Regions from separate parts of the Homo sapiens genome. Here all the other regions are reported to be linked to region 2. The links are microRNA targets in miRTarBase. Many come from high-throughput screens and were not tested one by one. Region 2 holds a microRNA gene; each other region holds the end of a gene's coding sequence.
What was found. The annotated mature microRNA hsa-miR-29b-1-5p reads GCUGGUUUCAUAUGGUGGUUUAGA and lies in region 2 at 3,159-3,182, shown strand. An mRNA with a match to its seed (bases 2 to 7 or 8) in the 3' UTR can be bound and repressed. Matches are read on the target gene's strand: a 7mer-m8 pairs with bases 2 to 8, a 7mer-A1 pairs with bases 2 to 7 and ends in A, and an 8mer does both.

Region 1: the mRNA of SYNRG is a reported target of hsa-miR-29b-1-5p. Seed matches in the 3' UTR shown: 7mer-A1 at 409-415.
Region 3: the mRNA of GTF3C3 is a reported target of hsa-miR-29b-1-5p. Seed matches in the 3' UTR shown: 7mer-m8 at 1,691-1,697.
Region 4: the mRNA of PNKD is a reported target of hsa-miR-29b-1-5p. The part of its 3' UTR that is shown has no 7-base or 8-base seed match.

The regions. Positions count from the first base shown.
Region 1 is chr17:37,515,142-37,519,689 of GRCh38, forward strand. SYNRG (synergin gamma) reads right to left here. Exons shown (of 22, transcript NM_007247.6): 22 at 1-3,930. The coding sequence ends at 3,799. Among named protein-coding and RNA genes, the nearest start is that of DUSP14, 28 kb to the left of the region's middle.
Region 2 is chr7:130,876,141-130,880,688 of GRCh38, reverse strand. MIR29B1 (microRNA 29b-1) reads left to right here and starts at 3,150; the gene lies at 3,150-3,230. MIR29A (microRNA 29a) reads left to right here and starts at 3,879; the gene lies at 3,879-3,942. It also overlaps a transcript of LINC-PINT not described here.
Region 3 is chr2:196,760,410-196,764,931 of GRCh38, reverse strand. GTF3C3 (general transcription factor IIIC subunit 3) reads left to right here. Exons shown (of 18, transcript NM_012086.5): 18 at 247-1,897. The coding sequence ends at 369. Among named protein-coding and RNA genes, the nearest start is that of GTF3C3, 37 kb to the left of the region's middle.
Region 4 is chr2:218,344,113-218,348,660 of GRCh38, reverse strand. PNKD (PNKD metallo-beta-lactamase domain containing) reads right to left here. Exons shown (of 10, transcript NM_015488.5): 9 at 4,091-4,206; 10 at 1,868-3,853. The coding sequence ends at 3,680. The region is part of intron 2 of CATIP-AS2 (CATIP antisense RNA 2); the gene reads left to right. Among named protein-coding and RNA genes, the nearest start is that of MIR6810, 4.5 kb to the right of the region's middle.

The DNA of each region.
Region 1 (4,548 bases), not on the chromosome of region 2:
TTATAATGCTATTTTGTTAGAAAAGTATTTGTAAAGTGGCATTTTTCCCCCAAGAGCTGTTTCACTTAAGCTTTATTTCCTCGGCCTGGCAAGGGGAGGGCTTTTCAGTATTGTTATTTGGTACACACTTACCTGAAGAAATAAGTAAGTAACTTAAACATAAAAAACATAGTCGACACACATCTTGCCCTGCATTCTGACATTTGCTGGAATGGTCTACAGCAGGCTACAATGCTCCCTTCTGAATGGCAAATGTCTGAAAATGTCAGTTTATTAACTGTTCACAAAGGCAGGCATTTGACCTTGAAGGTGTTAAAGGGAATTTTTTATTTTTGAGACAGAGTTTCGCTCTTGTTGCCCAGGCTGGAGTGCAGTGGCGCGATCTCGGCTCACTGCAACCTCCGCCTCTCTGGTTCAAGCAATTCTCCTGCCTCAGCCTCCCGAGTAGCTCGGATTACAGGCACCTGCCACCATGCCCAGCTAATTTTTGTATTTTTAGTAGAGACAGGGTCTCGCCATGTTGGCCAGGCTGGTCTTGAACTCCTGACCTCGGGTGATCCACCCGGCTCGGCCTCCCAAAGTGCTGGGGATTACAGGCGTGAGCCACCACGCCCGGCTAAAGGGAATTTTTGTAGTGGTCCCCAGTACAGGGCCAGCATTTCCTATTTCTGTAACATACAGCCCTATAATCTTTGCAAAGCTGAAGTACACTTGAAATAGGCAAACAGAAGACACCTTTAAACAAATAAGACCCCCCCAAAACCCTTCAAATATGTATATGTACACAAAATATTCAAATAATTAAAAATTCACAACCCCTATGGAATGCTAACTAGTAGCCACAGGAAAAATAAAGCATGGAAAATATCCTCATATATCCAGTACCTCTTCTATCTCAAGCATGTCCAGACAAAAATTAAATTACACACTAAGCCATAAAAATTTTAAAGGCAAAACATCCCACCAAAAAAAGAAAAGTGCTTATTAATGGCCATTCAAGCAGTGGGGTGAAGCGGGCTGACACAATGCACAGTATGGAAATAAGTAACCTTGGCTACAGTTTCCAAGGACACGGGGCTCCTGGCTGACAAGAAGAGCTGAGGTGAAGCTGAATGCAGCGTTGAGCCATTTTAATAAACGTTTATAAAGAAAAGCAGCGCAACCGTGTCCCACACTCCTTGGATCCCTATTGGTGGCATCTAATTAAACATTTCAAGTATTCAAGAGATATGAAAGGTAGTGAATACTTTTCATAGCAAAGGCTTTTTTTCTGTTGACATCTGCTGAATTTTCCTGTGGCACCTCCCAAGGAGTGACTAAGCCTACCATCCTTGGTAAGGAAAATGGGGATTATACTAAGGAATTTTATCTGAGGCATTCTGGAATTTCTCAGGAATAGAAACCAGCCCAGCTACCAAGTGAGCTTTTTAAAATGTTGATACTGGGCCACTGTGACATGACAGGCATCTATATAGCATTTCAAAAAAATGCTTCAGCAATACAAATTCAAACTGGGAAACTTTTTTTTTTTTTTTTTTAAGAGACAGTGTCTCGCTCTGTCATCACCTACGCTGTCACGTGCAGCCTCAAACTCCTGGACTTGTGATCTCCCGCCTCAGCTTACCTAGTAGCTGGGACCACGAATGTCCACAGATGCACTCCACCTACCCGGCTAATTATTTTTTGTATAATTAGCTGGGGTCTTTACCATCATGCCCAGGGCTGGTCTCTAACTCCTGGGAAACATTCTTATTGCAAAGGTAGATTCTGCTGTCATGGTTCTGTTATGAAATTTAGGCCAGGCGCAGTGGCTCACGCCTGTAATCCCGGTACTTTGGGAGGCTGAGGCGGGCGGATCGCCTGAGGTCCGGAGTTCAAGCCTGGCCAACATGGAGAAACCTTGCCTCTACTAAAAATACAAAATTAGCTGGGCGTGGTGGTGCACGCCTGTAATCCCAGCTACTCACGAGGCTGAGGCAGGAGAATCGCTTGAACCCGGGAGGCGGAGGTTGCACTGAGCTGAGATTGTGCCATTGCACTCAAGCCTGGGCAACAAGAGTGAAACTCCATCTCAAAAAAAAACAAAGAATTTTTAAGGCCAATTAGCAGCCTGCTTGCATTCCAGCTCCATGTGGAAGTGGTGCTGTCCAGGATGGAAGCGCCGAGGCCTCAGGAAAAGCCTGCCAAAAGCTGTCCCACTTGTGTTGTTAGAAACACCCCACTAGCCTTGTGGTGGGCAAAAGCTCCAAAGGTGCCCATTCAGAGTGAGCTGCCTCAGTCAGGAATGGCCAGAGACGGTATCATCGGGAGCGAGTGAGAAAAGCCTTTCTCTCCTCGGTGCCTCTCTGTGCATTCGGGCACGCAGAAGGTCAAGCAGAAGCCTCAGCAACAGCTGTTTAATGAAAATGTTCCACACCTTTCTTGGAGAACATGGAAAAGCTGTAAGATGGAGCAAGACAGAATTTGTCCTGAGAGGGGAAAATAAATTATGTAAAAGCAGCAATTATATAGACAAGACCAACTTTTTCAGTTTAAAAATAAAAGTCTAGGTCAGAGGGTCTAAACCACACAAAGTAAAGCACACGAGATTGAAAAATCTCTTCATAAAGCGCATAATCAACAATTCAGAGAGACGTGTGCCCTAGATTGGTAGTTCTTCCCAGGAATAACACAGCTCTTAGCCACTTGGGTTTTTCCCCTAATTTTATGCATTCACATTAAATGGCAAAGACAATTCCCTACTCCAGGAAGCATGAGCCTTTTCTATCTAAAATTCAGTACTGTTTCTGGACAATTTTCTTCTACTTCTTCTAAGTCATGTATCTATCCCATAAATATACATCTTGATACTTTACACTAGGCCGAGAGCTCCACATTTTCACCCTGAATTAATTTTCAGGTTTTTCTCACAGATACTGCAAAGTCAGGCAGTGTTGGTCCCTATGCAGTCATCTTTGGAAATTTGGAGAGAGGCCACTGCAAAGAGATTTCATTCCACTGCCTTTCCAAATCTTGTCTGAGAAAACTCCATGGTCACAGTCTTTGCATGCGGCAGAACAGGTTTGCAGCGAAGGCTCCCGGGGGGAAGGATATTATCCTAATACACAGGATTTGGGCCTCTGTCAAAATGAGCATTCTTCACGGCTGCAGAGTGCCCAGGCATGTTTTGGGAAAAAGTCTTGAGAGTGGACAGAAGTGAAGGGAAGGAGTAGAGAACTGGTTCAGTTGTGACAACCAAGTGGGTAAAATCTGCCCTCACCTGCCTGCTACTGTCCAGGGGAGATGGGCAGAATCTTCTCCATAAAAAGCAGAACATCAGTTTAATCGCAATTTCCTCTTTTTATTCATTTCAGACATTAACAAACTAAATGCAGATAAATGTATTCTACTTCACAGGACAGTAAGTGTCCTAGATAAAAACAAGCACTGGCTCCAAGCAGTCGCCCATTCTAGTCCCGCAACGGTAATCTATTTTTCTTCAAATGTCAGTTCTTCACAGTTTCAATACTGCAGCAGCAAGTTCTTCCTTAGATCAAGAAAGCCGTGGTCCGTATTTCAGAAAATCTTAAGTAGAGATAAGTGAGCAAGCTTCTGGTGCCACGTGCAGTTTGGGTGGGACAATTTTACCTGAAGTCCTGCAGACTGGCCGTGGGGATGACGGGGGCCCCGTCCCTTGCGGTGTTCTTCATATCGATTCAGGGAAGCGAACTGTGCAGTGCTCGCATTCTATTTATTGGTCCCTGTCACCCCGTGGGGTGTCACAGAAAAAAAAAAGTCAATGCTTCACAGAGGAGTTGTTCAGAGCAGGTCAGGCAGGACGAGGCCAGGAGGCTTTGGTTCGACACAGTTGATCCAGAAGTTGGCACAGCTGGCGTGATACTGGTGCCCTCCATAGGCCAGCTTGAAACTGTCTGTTTCTGAGTTGAATGCCTGCCAGAAATAAACAGAGATGTGGGGCAAGTCAGGCTTTTTCTGCATCTCAGAGCTTTTCAGCAACCAACATGTACATCTATCTCTCCAGGTCACAGAGGCTGAGGCCAAAATGGCACACACATAAAAGCTGAGCGGATAGCTACAGGAATTCAAGAGAGAAGGTTTTTTACTGCTAATTAAAGGTATAAAATTGTTACCACTAAACCTAGTTTCAGCAAAAGGTGGCCAAATCTTCCATGGAAAAGGCAGACAGAGGTTATGGGGTGGAGGGGGGGAATCATGATAAGGGGAACTGAAGTAGCCAAGGGCTGTGGATAGCTTTCATCCCTCACTGTGCTGAAGGAAGCCCTCCTCCTAAGGCCGGCATCTGACTACAGCATGCAATCCTTTACACTCCTGTAGCTGACCACAAGCCTATCATGACAAAAAATTACAAGAGAGTTAGAGAACGAGAGAGTTAGAAAACGAGAGAGTTAGAGAACGACAGATAACAACTCTTAGGGTCTAATGGCATTGACCCTAATGCCTAATGAATCTACATTATCAAAAAGTCCAAACAGGTATGGAGTTAAAAAAAAATGCCTCGAAATGAATGGGCATTAAACACATAAGAAT
Region 2 (4,548 bases):
GGACATAAAAGCAATGTGGGAAGATATACCAAATGACCTTGTCACACTGGGCTAATATGAAGAGCCCACAGATGCAAAATAATGTATCATACCTTTATTCTTCTGATTTTTTTTTTTTTTTTTTTTTTCGGAGACAGTCTCACTCTTTTGCCCAGGCTGGAATCCAGTGGCGCGATCTTGGCTCACTGCAACCTCTGCCACCCGGGTTCAGGCAATTCTCCTGCCTCAGCCTCCCGCCCAGCTAATTTTTGTATTATTAATTAGTAGAGAGAGGGTTTCACCTTCTTGGCCAGGCTAGTCTTGAACTCCTGACCTCGTGATACACCTGCCTTGGCCTCCCAAAGTGCTGGGATTACAGGCGTGAGCCACCGTGCCTGGCCTTTTTTTTTTTTTTTTTTTTTTTTTTTTGAGATGGAGTCTGGCTGTATTGCCCAGGCTGGAGTGCAGTGGCATGATCTTGGCTCACTGCAACCTCTGCCTCCCAGGTTCAAGTGATTCTCCTGCCTCAGCCTCCTGAGTAGCTGGGATTGCAGGCATCCCATACCCGGCTAATTTTTTTGAAACAGAGGCTTGCTCTGTCACCCAGGCTGGAGTGCAATGGCACGATCTCAGCTCAGTGCAACCTCCGCCTACTGGGCTCAAGCAACTCTCCTGCCTCGGCCTCAGCCTCACTACAGGCATGTGCCACCACGCCTGGCTAGTTTGGTTTTTTTTTTTTGTATTTTTTTAGTAGATATGGGGTTTCACCATGTTGGCCAGGTTGGTCTCAAACTTCTGACCTCAAGTGATCTGCCTGCCTCAGCCTCCCAAAATGCTGGGATTACAGGTATGAGCCACCACGCTTAGCCTTCTGCTGAATTTTTGAGAAGCATACATAAAGACAATGTAAAAAACTTAGCATATTTGTTTGGCCCTGCTAAGGGCATGGTTGAATATATAGTGTGTGTGATGTATTTGGTGTATGAGATATATATGATCTTATCAGACATAAGTAAAAGAAATTCATTCTTCAGGAAAAATTTTCCCCATAACTGAAGTGTCAATCATTTGAAAAAACTTCTAGGCAGTAGGCAAACACTGTGACTAGTTATTTATCAAAAATAAGCAGACTTTAGAGTTTTGTAACTGATGAGAATAATCTGGCTGCTTCTTTTGTACTTCAGTCACTGATACTGCGAATTAGAGTAGCATATACAGAAGGATGCAGGGGGTCCCTAAAGGAATCACAGAATTAGTGAAACCATTATTTGAGAGTTGCAGTGATTCTTCTGTCCTGGCACTTTTCCCAGTTTTGGTGCTTAAATTTACTATCCACTTGAAATGTGTCACTGCCTGTCACTTCACAAAGTATGTGCCTTTCACTGCAGTCAACAAGCTGTTTACATCTTTGATGAAATGATTGCCACGCATCTCCATAGCCCTGGTGTTCTATTCCCTTATTCACAGAGATTTTTTTTAAAAACCAGCCTAGCAGCAATAGGTATGTGCTGTGGATGCTTCTCCATGATGATAAAGGATGAGTTTGTGCTGGGATCTCCTTATGAAAAGATAACTGGCCAAGCCCATGAGGAACAAGAATGTTATGCTAATCAGACCCAAGGTAAACAGCCTGCAGTGCACCTCCTGACTGATTAGCACTGAACCCACTTGGAATCATCAACCACAGGCACGTGGTAATTGGATGTTCTTCTAATACACATAGTGAGATTGTAAAATGAGGATGATATATGAGGAAAGTCAGACGGAGAAACTAAAGTTCAGTTCTTAAATACAAGCCAAGGGAACAGACTAAGTGAATGGTACAGCCAGGATTGGAGCCTGGTTTTCACAAGGTGGTATGTCATGATAAAACAAGCCAAAGAAAAGGTTGGGTAGTGTTTTGAGGCTAAAAGAGACCAAAGAGTCTTAGTGAATCAACCTTGATGCGATCTGGGTTTGAAAAACCTATAAAAAACCTTTTGTTTGGAGAAAGTGGGAGAAGTTGGATGTAGGCTGGATATTTGTGGGTACCAAGGAATTGTTTGTTTTCTTAGGTATGGTAAGATTTTGTGGTTATGTAGAAGAGTGTCTTCATTTTATAGAACGACCTCAAAGTAGTTAGGAGCAGTGTATGTATGGGTGGTTATCAATTTACTTTCAAACAATGCAGCAAAAAATATGTATCTATATTACATATAATTAAAGCAAAACATGATAAAAAGGAATAGTTATTGAATTTAGATAGTATGGATTTAGGAATTCATTGTATTGTCATTCCAATTTAATGTATAAAATTTTTTATAACAGTTTATAAAAACAGTGCACACCCCTTTAATTAGGTGGCCTGGGTACATGAAGTATCTTTTTGGATGCCTAGAACACAAAAAGGGACGACAACAGGCCACCTAATAAGATGATACCAAGAACTATACCATGACGGCGAAAAAGAACTGCTGCAAAAAATAATTTGCCAAGGAGAACTCAGAGTACAAAGCCTTACCTTTGGAGTAGAGGGAAGGAGAGTCTTAAGTAAAGCTCACAAAAACCCCTAACTCATAGATGCAGTCTAAGGAATTCATTCCGGAAGCGACATTAGCATCTCATTAGTGCCATTATGTGACTTACTTGGCCTCTGAGCTAGTCTATTTTCTTCCCTAGACCCCAAAATCTCAGTAATCCTTTGGATCCAAGTTATCTCCAAGTGAAAATAATAGGTTTAGGAAAGCGTTTTTCTTCAACTTCTATGGAGCACTTGCTTGCTTTGTCCTATTTGCATGTCCGACGGACGGTTCTCCAGCACCACTGCTAGTCGTCCTCCGCCTGCCTGGGTACTTGATCACAGGATGCCTCTGACTTCTCCTGCCTTTACCCAAGCAAAGGATTTTCCTTGTCTTCCCACCCAAGAGTGACGGGGCTGACATGTGCCCTTGCCTCTAAATGATGAAGCTGAACCTTTGTCTGGGCAACTTAACTTAAGAATAAGGGAGTCCCAGGCATGCTCTCCCATCAATAACAAATTCAGTGACATCAGTTTATGAATATATGAAATTTGCCAAAGCTCTGTTTAGACCACTGAGTAACTCACAGCTAGGTTTCAACTTTTCCTTTCTAGGTTGTCTTGGGTTTATTGTAAGAGAGCATTATGAAGAAAAAAATAGATCATAAAGCTTCTTCAGGAAGCTGGTTTCATATGGTGGTTTAGATTTAAATAGTGATTGTCTAGCACCATTTGAAATCAGTGTTCTTGGGGGAGACCAGCTGCGCTGCACTACCAACAGCAAAAGAAGTGAATGGGACAGCTCTGAAGTATTTGAAAGCAACAGCAGGATGGCTGTGAGAACCTGCCTCACATGTAGCTGACCCCTTCCTCACCCCTGCCAACAGTGGTGGCATATATCACAAATGGCAGTCAGGTCTCTGCACTGGCGGATCCAACTGTGATCGAAAGTTTTCCAAAAATAAGTTGTGTCTGTATTGAACATGAACAGACTTTCTTCTTGTCATTATTCTCTAACAATACTGCATAACAATTATTTGCATACATTTGCATTGCATTAAGTATTCTAAGTAATCTAGAGACGATTTAAAGTATACGGGAGGATGTGTGTAGGTTGTATGCAAATACTACACCATTTTCTATCAGAGACTTGAGCATCTGTGGATTTTGGTATCCAAGGGGCTTTCTGGAACCAATCCCTCAAGGATACCAAGGGATGAATGTAATTGTACAGGATATCGCATTGTTGGAATTTTATACTTCTTTGTGGAATAAACCTATAGCACTTAATAGATAGTACAGACTCATTCCATTGTGCCTGGGTTAAAGAGCCCAATGTATGCTGGATTTAGTAAGATTTGGGCCCTCCCAACCCTCACGACCTTCTGTGACCCCTTAGAGGATGACTGATTTCTTTTGGTGTTCAGAGTCAATATAATTTTCTAGCACCATCTGAAATCGGTTATAATGATTGGGGAAGAGCACCATGATGCTGACTGCTGAGAGGAAATGTATTGGTGACCGTTGGGGCCATGGACAAGAACTAAGAAAACAAATGCAAAGCAATAATGCAAAGGTGATTTTTCTTCTTCCAGTTTCTAAGTTGAATTTCACTGACCTGAATTGCATGTGGTATAATACTAACAAATGGTTCACTATTAGCATATCATGAATGGTTATACTTTATAGAAATTCCATAGACTTGGTGGGGGTTTTGTTTTGGTGACGGATACCTAGAAACACTCCTGGGGAAAATCGATGACTGGCTTAGATGATGGGAAAGGAGCAGCGAGGGAGTCAATTCTGTTGTTGATGAGAAGCTGCACCAGCTATCTCTGAACTCTCCTCTCTTAGCTGGCTGAGGAGTTCCCTCCATGGTTAAACAGGTCATTTTCTTACATAAGGAAAAATGGTCCAGAGAAACTGGGTTTCTATGGCTGAGACAGAACTGTGCTAATATGTGTCAGTTCAGTTTAGAAGGCAAAGCAACAAAAGCAGGTGCTACTTGAACTAGGATCCTAGAGTATACCTTTGATATGGTTTGGATGTTTGTCCCCTCCAATCTCATGTTG
Region 3 (4,522 bases), not on the chromosome of region 2:
ATCTGGCGTTTATTCTGCCGTAGCTTGTGGGTGAGACTTTAAATTACTGTTAAAATATTTGATGATGCTGTTAACTGAATCAGCATTGATCCAAGGTATATGCATAGTTTTATAATTTTTTTTTAGTACATGAGCTTTAATACCTTTTGAAAACTTACTTACACTTATAAAACTATTAATTTGCCATAAAATTGTCCCGGTTGACAGTTGGAAATATTAAACATAAAGGTATCTTTTTCTCCCTAGGGTATAGAACTTGACCAGTTAGACTTACGAAGAGATATTGCCTACAACTTGTCTCTCATCTATCAGAGCAGTGGGAATACCGGAATGGCTCAAACGCTTTTGTATACCTATTGTTCTATATAAAGCACCGCAACTGAGAACAGAGCAATGGCAGCTGCTGTGTGAGGACCAGTGTCTTCTGTCTCAGGGCTTATTATTTGTAACTCCAAAATAGAAATGACAATTTCAGAATTACCTAACAAACAGTGTATTTATTTTTAATATGTGATAATGATCTTGTGGTATATATGCAAAATTATTCCTACAAAAATTTGTATATTGGTCTGTCATTTTCCTTTCACATTCTATAGTGAATTGTTCCCAATGTTGAAATGGACGTGTAAGCCTTTGAGCTAGCTTGGAGTCGAATACACTATTTTTCACTCACACCATTTATTCATCTTTGTATTTAATACTATAGCTCTGTCAATATCACATGAGGCAGTTTTTCAAATACGTATAAACAGAGGTTGCTTATTATTAAAGGAAAGACAAAGTGGGACTCTTTATGATGTCATGACCATGATAACTAAGCACCTAAGAAAATTATTTAAAATAGTTATGTGGTAGGCAGAAAGACAAATAATTTAGTTTTTTACTTTTCACCAGCATGTATCTTAGCTACCTAAACTGAAACATGGGAGGCTGGGCTTAATTCAAAATATATTGCTCCAAGGCAAATAAAAAAATGCTTTATCTATATTTGTGGCTTTCTGATGAAAAAATAGAGAAGAGCTTGTTCAATAACAGGACATGGTTTCCATTTCAAGATCACAAGTAATATAAGACTGGGCAAGTAGTACGTATGGAATAAAGGACATACTGCTGATTGATAAAGTAAAAAACTTTTTTTTTGTTTGTTTACTCATCTCCACTATTTATTATATGTTCTTGAATTTAAGTTAACAGTACTTTTTAGATGATATACTGTTAGCTTAATAACAACTTTTTAGGGAAAAATAAATGCTGTAATTAATGTGCACATGGGTTAGTAACACCCAGCCCAATTGTGGGAGGGAAACAAGTAGAGGCTTAGGATCAAAGAAATAAAATTGGGACTTATTAGAAATTCTTACCACTGTTTCTACTGTACACAAAACTTTCTAGTTGAGCAGAATTTGTATGCAATAAGTAAATATATTGTATACTCCATGTGTATAATTTAAATGCATTTTATTTTTATAATTGAGGTTAACTGTTTCACATGCTTAATTTTTACTTTATGCCATTTATAGGTAATGGTAGAGGTAACTGAGATACAGTAATAAGTTAGACTTGTGTGTTGGAATTCTGTGGAACTGAGCATTCTGTGCTCCGAGTTTCTCTCTTAAATTAGCTCACTGGACTGTGGCTCCAGTGTCTACTAAATAGCCGTGGAGGAAATAAGTCTCCCTAAGGGAAAAAAAAACCAGCTGATATTGTATAGTTTTGTTTAGCTTTTAAAATCATAGCTTCCATTTGCTGAGTTTTTACTCTGCTACTGTATGCTAAGTATGGTGCTAAACACTTTGGATATGTTATCTCTGATTCTCTCAGGGAACTGCAAGGTAGTTATTATTGATATTGTCATCACCACTTTGTATCTAGAGATTAAATAGCATGTTCAAGATCACTAGTAAGCTGCTCCTTGCTCAGAGATTTTCCTTCAGAAGAACACAGTTGCTGTAGTTCAGAGTAACAACAAACATTAAGCATAAGGTTTGTTTTTTTTTTTTCTTTTGAGACGGAGTCTCACTCTGTCTCCAGGCTGGAGTCCAGTGGCATGATCTCTGCTCACTGCTACCTCCACCTCCCAGGTTCAAGCGATTCTCCTGCCTCAGCCTCCCGAGTAGCTGGGACTACAGGTGCCTGCCACCACCTCCAGCTAATTTTTGTATTTTTAGTAGAGACAGGGTTTCACCATGTTGGCCAAGATGGTCTCGATCTCTTGACCTCGTAATTCGCCCGCCTCGGCCTCCCAAAGTGCTGGGATTACAGGTGTGAGCCACTGCACCCAGCCAAGCATAAGTTTATTTTAGAAAGAAAAAAGACATTGGCAGTGTTTCTGTCTTCCAGGCCTTCAGCCCATCAAAGCCCCTGTATAAAAACATCTTTTGGGGTCTCTTTTTAAAAGCTCCTATTCTCTTACCTCCCATCCTCACCTTAGCAGTGGGGTCCTGGTACCTGTTTTATGCACTGAGACTCTGCTGCTCCTGCATGATCACAGTTGATCGAGGAGGGAGTCTGCTCCTGAACCAACCTGGGCCAATCAGGAGTTTCCTCCCGCCTTCCCTGGGAATTTCAGACTTGAAATAGTTCATGTAGGGCCAGAACTTCAGAACAATGAGGCCAACTAGCAGTTAACCCGTTCTGTTGAAAAAAAAAAAAAAAGTGAGGTGTCTGCATTAAGAGAAGTAAAGATGAGCGAAGGAGAGTTCTCTCTGAAGTCCCAGAGATTTCCAGTTTTCAGTTCTATCCTCAGGCCAGCTGCCTTCTTACCCTTGGATTCGTTCTAGGAGATAGCCTTGATTCTGTTATAGTTTCCACTTTAATATTTACACCAGCTTGGGTTTTTCTGTTAAATGCACATACAAAAAATTTTGACCTGATCGACCACCATTCCATCTTTCTTTTAATTTAGCATTACTGCTTTCTAGCCATTTTCATAGGAAGAAAGTATAAAGCAAACAGAAATGAATATAAAAATTTGTTGCTGAATTACAAGTAGTGTCACGAAGTCTAATCCACAATAAACAGGCTTTTCAAAATCATTCAGAGCAAGAACAGGAGGAATGTTCCTGCTGTGGTGTTGTAAAGCTAATAGTATTATAATACTATAGTTCATATTGAAAGAATATATACTCCAACATAATACTGAACAGGGTAGGAAAGGAGTTAATGGCCAAGATATTGGGTGAGGATATGAGTAAGGGGGGACTAGAAATGAACTGCATCTCCAGGCCCATAGTCCCTATACTAATGGCTATGCTATGAAACTGCAAATTAGAATTTTGAGGCATTCTCAGAAGAAAATGACCAAATGAACTGAATTTTTTAAGTGGGCAAAAGGTGGATTCTGGAAACCACTTGGGCATGTTAGTGCTGGCATGATTCCAGCCATCTGTGTGTTCTTTGAAGTGATGTTCCTTAGGATACTTACTCTTTTTTTCCAAGCAAAAAGGCCAGCTGCCTTCTCACCCTTGGATTCATTCTAGAATCCAGATAGATTCTTTGATTCTTTGATCAGGATATCCTTGATTCTATAATAACTTCCACTTCAATCTTTTAGGAGATACACTCTTTTTGCTTGGTACTAGACTGGTGGTTCTGAGGACTATCTTACATTTTATGTATCTGGGTTTTAGCAGAGTCTGTGAGGAAGACTGCTGTGATATGCTTATGGATTGAATGGGAAAGTGTGGCTGGTTCTTCAGCCGGTAGAATGACCGAACTCAAAGAATGCATGTTGACAGACTGATGTAGACTGGAGAGAAACTGCAAATGACATGCCACCATGTTCATTAACGACTTAGGTGACAATATAAGGCATGGTCAAATTTGCATGGAGGGAAACTAGAAGTTATAATAAATACCAATACTAATGAATTAATGAAAAATCTCAACAATGTTATTAAACTGAACTGGGGTCTGCTTGCCCAGCATGGTAAGGCCAAACATCCATACCAAGGTTTTCAGCAGGAGAAAGGGGGGCATTTATTTGTAGGCACCTTGAAGCAAGGAGAATTGGGCAGTTTATGCTTAGGACCTGACCTCTTCAATGGCTCATAAGGAAGGGTTTTTAAATGCAGGGGTACATTTTAAGCAAGAGTTATAGGCAAAATTGTAAATTAATACATGGAGGTTCTATAATACATTGGTTTGGCCTAAAAGGGTGGGATATCTTGAAGTGGGGGCTTATAGGTAACAGATTTAAAGATTTTTTTGATTTGTAATTGGTTAAGGAAGAGAAGCTTTATTTAAAATTTTGGGGTCATCAGAAAAGAATGTTGGCCCTGGCTCTTGGGTATGACTTCTTTTAGACCCTTCAGGAAGAAATTCAGAGCAAGGAGTGGCAGCATTTAATCTTCATTTCCCCCTTACTAGAGGTTTATGTGTCAGTGGATCCACTTGGTGGCGGGTCTGGTTTTTTGAAAAACAACTTAGGGACGTATGTTATAAGATGCTCTTTTTAGTTTTTATAGAGACCCAAACCATCCAGTGACTAATTTTTTTGGCTATTGTTTTAAGTTATTATCTT
Region 4 (4,548 bases), not on the chromosome of region 2:
CATAGGAGACTCCATTTTGTTCCGTACTAAGAAAAATTCTTCTGCCTTGGGATGCTGTTGATCTATGACCTTACCCCCAACCCTGTGCTCTCTGAAACATGTGCTGTGTCCACTCAGGGTTAAATGGATTAAGGGCGGTGCAAGATGTGCTTTGTTAAACAGATGCTCGAAGGCAGCATGCTCGTTAAGAGTCATCACCACTCCCTAATCTCAAGTACCCAGGGACACAAACACTGCGGAAGGCCGCAGGGTCCTCTGCCTAGGAAAACCAGAGACCTTTGTTCACTTGTTTATCTGCTGACCTTCCCTCCACTATTGTCCTATAACCCTGCCAAATCCCCCTCTGCGAGAAACACCCAAGAATGATCAATTAAAAATAAATAAATAAATAAATAAAAGAAGACATACATGTGGACAACAAACATATGAATAAAAGCTCAACATCACTCATCATTAGAGAAATGCAAATCAAAACCACAATGAGATACCATCTCACACAAGTCAGAATGGCTGTTATTAAAAAGTCAAAAAATAACAGACGCTGGAAAGGTTGTAGAGTAAAAGGAACGCTTATACACTGTTGGCGGGAGTGTAAATTTGTTCAACCAAAGTGGAAGACAGTGTGGTGTTTCCTCAAAGACCTAAAGACAGAACTACCATTCGACCCAGCAATCCCATTACTGGTTATATACCCAAAGGAATATAAGTTGTTCTATTATAATGATATGGTGTGGCTTTTTGTCCCCACCCAAATTTCATCTTTTTTTTTTTTGGGACAGAATCTCCCTCTGTTGCCCAGGCTGGAGTACAGTGGTGCGATCTTGGCCTACTTCAACCTCTGCCTCCCGGGTTCAGCGATTCTCGTGCCTCAGTCTCCTGGGTAGCTGGGATTACAGGCGCTCACCATCATGCCTTGCTAAGTTTTGTATTTTTAGTAGAGACGGGGTTTCACCATGTTGGCCAGGATGGTCGTGATCTCCTGACCTCGTGATCCGCCTGCCTCAGCCTCCCAAAGTGCTGGGATTACAGGCGTGAGCCACCACGCCCGGCCCTTTAATCATTTTTATGAACTGAAAACCAGTGTCACTTGTCAAAAATAAATATTGAACCCAAATATAAATATAATGAAAACAAAACGATGTTGTTAAAGCTTAACTACAGACATTTCCCAACTAAAGTATGAACCTGGATCCCGGGTCTTTCTTTCCAAAGACATTAAAGACAGACTAGTGCCAAGACCGTGTCCTTGAAGTCCAATTGATTGCTGTGCTGTGGCCATGTACAGCCACCCTACTTTGGCCAGTGGTACACTTGTGTATCTCAAGCTTTGGGAAACATTGAGATAAGCAAATCGTAAACCCTGAACAAATGCCCATGGGCCTTGGGAAGAACATATTTTAGGCATCATTTCTCTCTCTCTTTTTAAAAAAATTTTTTTTTTTTTTGAGACAGAGTCTCATTCTGTCGCCCAGGCTGGAGTGCAGTGGTGCGATCTCGGCTCACTGCAACCTCCGCCTCCTGGGTTCACGTGATTCTCCTGCCTCAGCCTCCTGAGTAGCTGGGATTATAGGCTCCTGCCACTATGTCTGGCTAATTTTTTGTATTTGTAGTACAGATGAGGTTTCACTATGTTGGCCAGACTGGTCTCGAACTCCTGACCTTGTGATCCACCCGCCTCAGCCTCCTAAAGAGCTGGGATTATAGGTGTGAGCCACTGCGCCCAGCCTTTGGGCATCATTTCTGATCAAAACTCTTGAAGTGCCTAACTGCAAGTTAGCAGGCCTGGAACTGAGATGGGAAAACTGTGAGAAAGTTCTCTGCTGTTTTCACTCATGTAGCAACAAAGACAAGCTGTTGGGTGATCAAGTCTTGATTAAATCATTCATTCATTCAACATTTATTGAGCGCCTACTGTGTGCTAGGCACCGTGCTAGGCGCAGAAATACAGAGATGCATAAGATACAGTCCATGCCCTTAAGGATTCACAGTCTAGAAGGGGAGACAAACATGTAAACAAGTAAAATACAGTGTGATAAGTGCCACAAGAGAAGCATTGACAAAGTGCAGAGGTAGCCTGGAGGGGAGGGGCACAGGGGTTGCCTTCCTGGAGGAGGGGGCCTTTGAGGGGATCGTGAGAGATGAACTTGCCAGGCAGACAAGGCAGGAGGAGCAGGGGAAGGCATTCCAGTCGGAAGAAACAGCATGAGCGAAGGCACAGAGGCATGAAACTGCATGTCTTGCTTGGTGAGTGGGGAACTCTAACTAGTCTGGTGGTATTGCTAAAGTGTACTAGAGGCTGTGGCTAGAGAAGGGGGCAGAGGCCAGATCATGAGGGGAAACTGAGGGCAGGGGCATCTTGGAGGGTCACCAGAGGTGAGCAGAGCCCGAGGGCAGGCTTTGACACAGGAAAAGAGGGCTCCTGGCTGACTCAAGGTACACCTGCCTGAGGACCACAGGGTTCCTCGCTGTGGCTCCAAAGGGATCTCGACCCAAGAGTAGAGGAGCAGCAGAGCTGGAGGTGAAGCAGAGGGGTCGGGCCAGGTCTGGGACCCAGAGCTGCCATGCACTCCCGCGCTCTCACAGACTTCTGATTTCCAACCTGCACGTCAGAGCCCCCTCCTGCCAGCCGGATGGGGGCCTGGATCCAGTGGGAAATCACATGGGAATATGGCTGGCAAACTGCAAAGGGCCAGATGAGTGTCAGGTTACAGAATAAATCTTTACTAACTCAAAGAAGAAAAGGGCTGCGGATAAAACAGGAAAGGTTAGATGGAGGAAGGCGGGCAGACGGGCCTAAGAACAAGGGCCAAAATGAGAATACAGCATCGGCCAAAGAGGACCGTGGCTGTCTCTCCCCTGGCAAGGAGGGGCCCTTTTGGCCCAGGGCAGAGGCAGAGGCCAGTGGGTACAACCAGGCCAGATGTGCAAGGAGAGCATGTGACCTGCAAGACTGTGGGGCTCCACACTCCAGACTCCAGTGTCTCCTTAGCCCAATGAGGAGGTTTCCTTGGCAATCAGGACCCTCCTTCTTCCAGGCTGTAGGGAGGCCACTGAGGCAGAGAGTGGCCAGCCAGCATTCCAGCCCTTCAGTGTTCTTAGGAATGGCTCTGTCTGAAAAATGGCTTTGCAGGGATGGGTGGGGCAGGGAGGCTGTGGGAAGAGGGCAGAGTCTCAGGACACCAGAGTCCAGCTGCCCATCTGAGTGGTGCTTTTGTAAGGCATCACACTTGAGGCCACTGTGAGGGGCTGAGCTTCTTTCCCAACCATGGATGGGGGAAGGGCAAGATGGACCCTGGGTTCCAGGGCTACAGTGAGATGAGGCCTCCTGACGGAGAAGCTAACAGCAGCCCCCATGTCCTTGCTGCCGTCCCAGGAGTAGGGAAGGAGGAGGGGACCCTCCCAGTTGGTAGGGTCTGGAGATGTCCCGAGACCCCTCCTTTCCTCTTGCCGTTGATGAGGCAGCCTCGCGCTGCGGGGTTCCCAGCCTCCAACAGGCCCCCTTCTTTTGGCCTCACAGTCTCATCGCCTGATCCCTCCCCTCCCCTGAGCAGTGTGGGGGGATGATGCCCGCTTGGGTGCCGATGGAGGTGGTGGTGTTAGCGATGAGAAGGATGATGAGGTGTTGGTGGTGGCGGCCTCCCCATGCGGGGAGTGGGCTGGGCTGGGGGCGCTGGGGGCATCACTTGCTCTTGTGCATATCCTTCAGCCGGCGGAGCTCTTCCAGGAGCTGGGCCCGGGAGTAGTCATCATCCCCAGTGGGGCCCGGCCCCGGCCCCAGAGCCTCCTGTAGCGCCAGGCAGTGGGTTCTCAGGAACGGGTTGTAGGAGCGCTCCTCTCCCAGGGTAGATGGGCACTGTGGGTGAGAGGAACCAGGTTTGGTGGAGAGAAGCTGGGAAATGGACCCAAGACAGAGAAGCCTGACCCGACCCCTGCCCCATCCTGGAGTTCAGGAGTTCTGACTTGAGGGCCCATGGGCCAAAGAGGTCAGAGTTTTGGGGAGGTGCTCGCAGGCCTGGGGTCAGCATGGATGGGTTCCCGTTGGGGCTGAGTGCCTGCCCACACAGCTCCTCCTGGACCCCGAGTCCCTCACCGTGCCCTTGCGCTCCAGCCGCTGCCGCTGCACCCACTGCATCTTCCTCTCCCGGGCCAGGTTCTCGGGCTCCACCACACCTGCAAAGCCCAGGTTCTCCTCTGCATACTCATGACCTACCGACAGCCATGAGGGTGAGACACAGAGCAGAGAGAGATTGGTGGTACAGTCAGAACAGTCTTCCCTGCCCCAGGTCCAGGCTGATGGGCACCTGACAACTAGGGATGAGGTCAGCACTTCCAGGAAAACCCCAACTGCCAGGAGCTGCTTCTCTAACTGTGGGCACAAGTCAGCCATGGGTGAAAAGGTGGCAATAGTTCCAGGGGAAAAAACCACTAGACCTGGAGCTGGCAGGCCTGCATCTAGCCCTGACTCCACCAAGCCTAGCATGTGACCTCGGTCTAGTCATGGCCCCTCTCTGAGGCACAATTTTCTCATTTGGCAAGTGGAGAGAACAA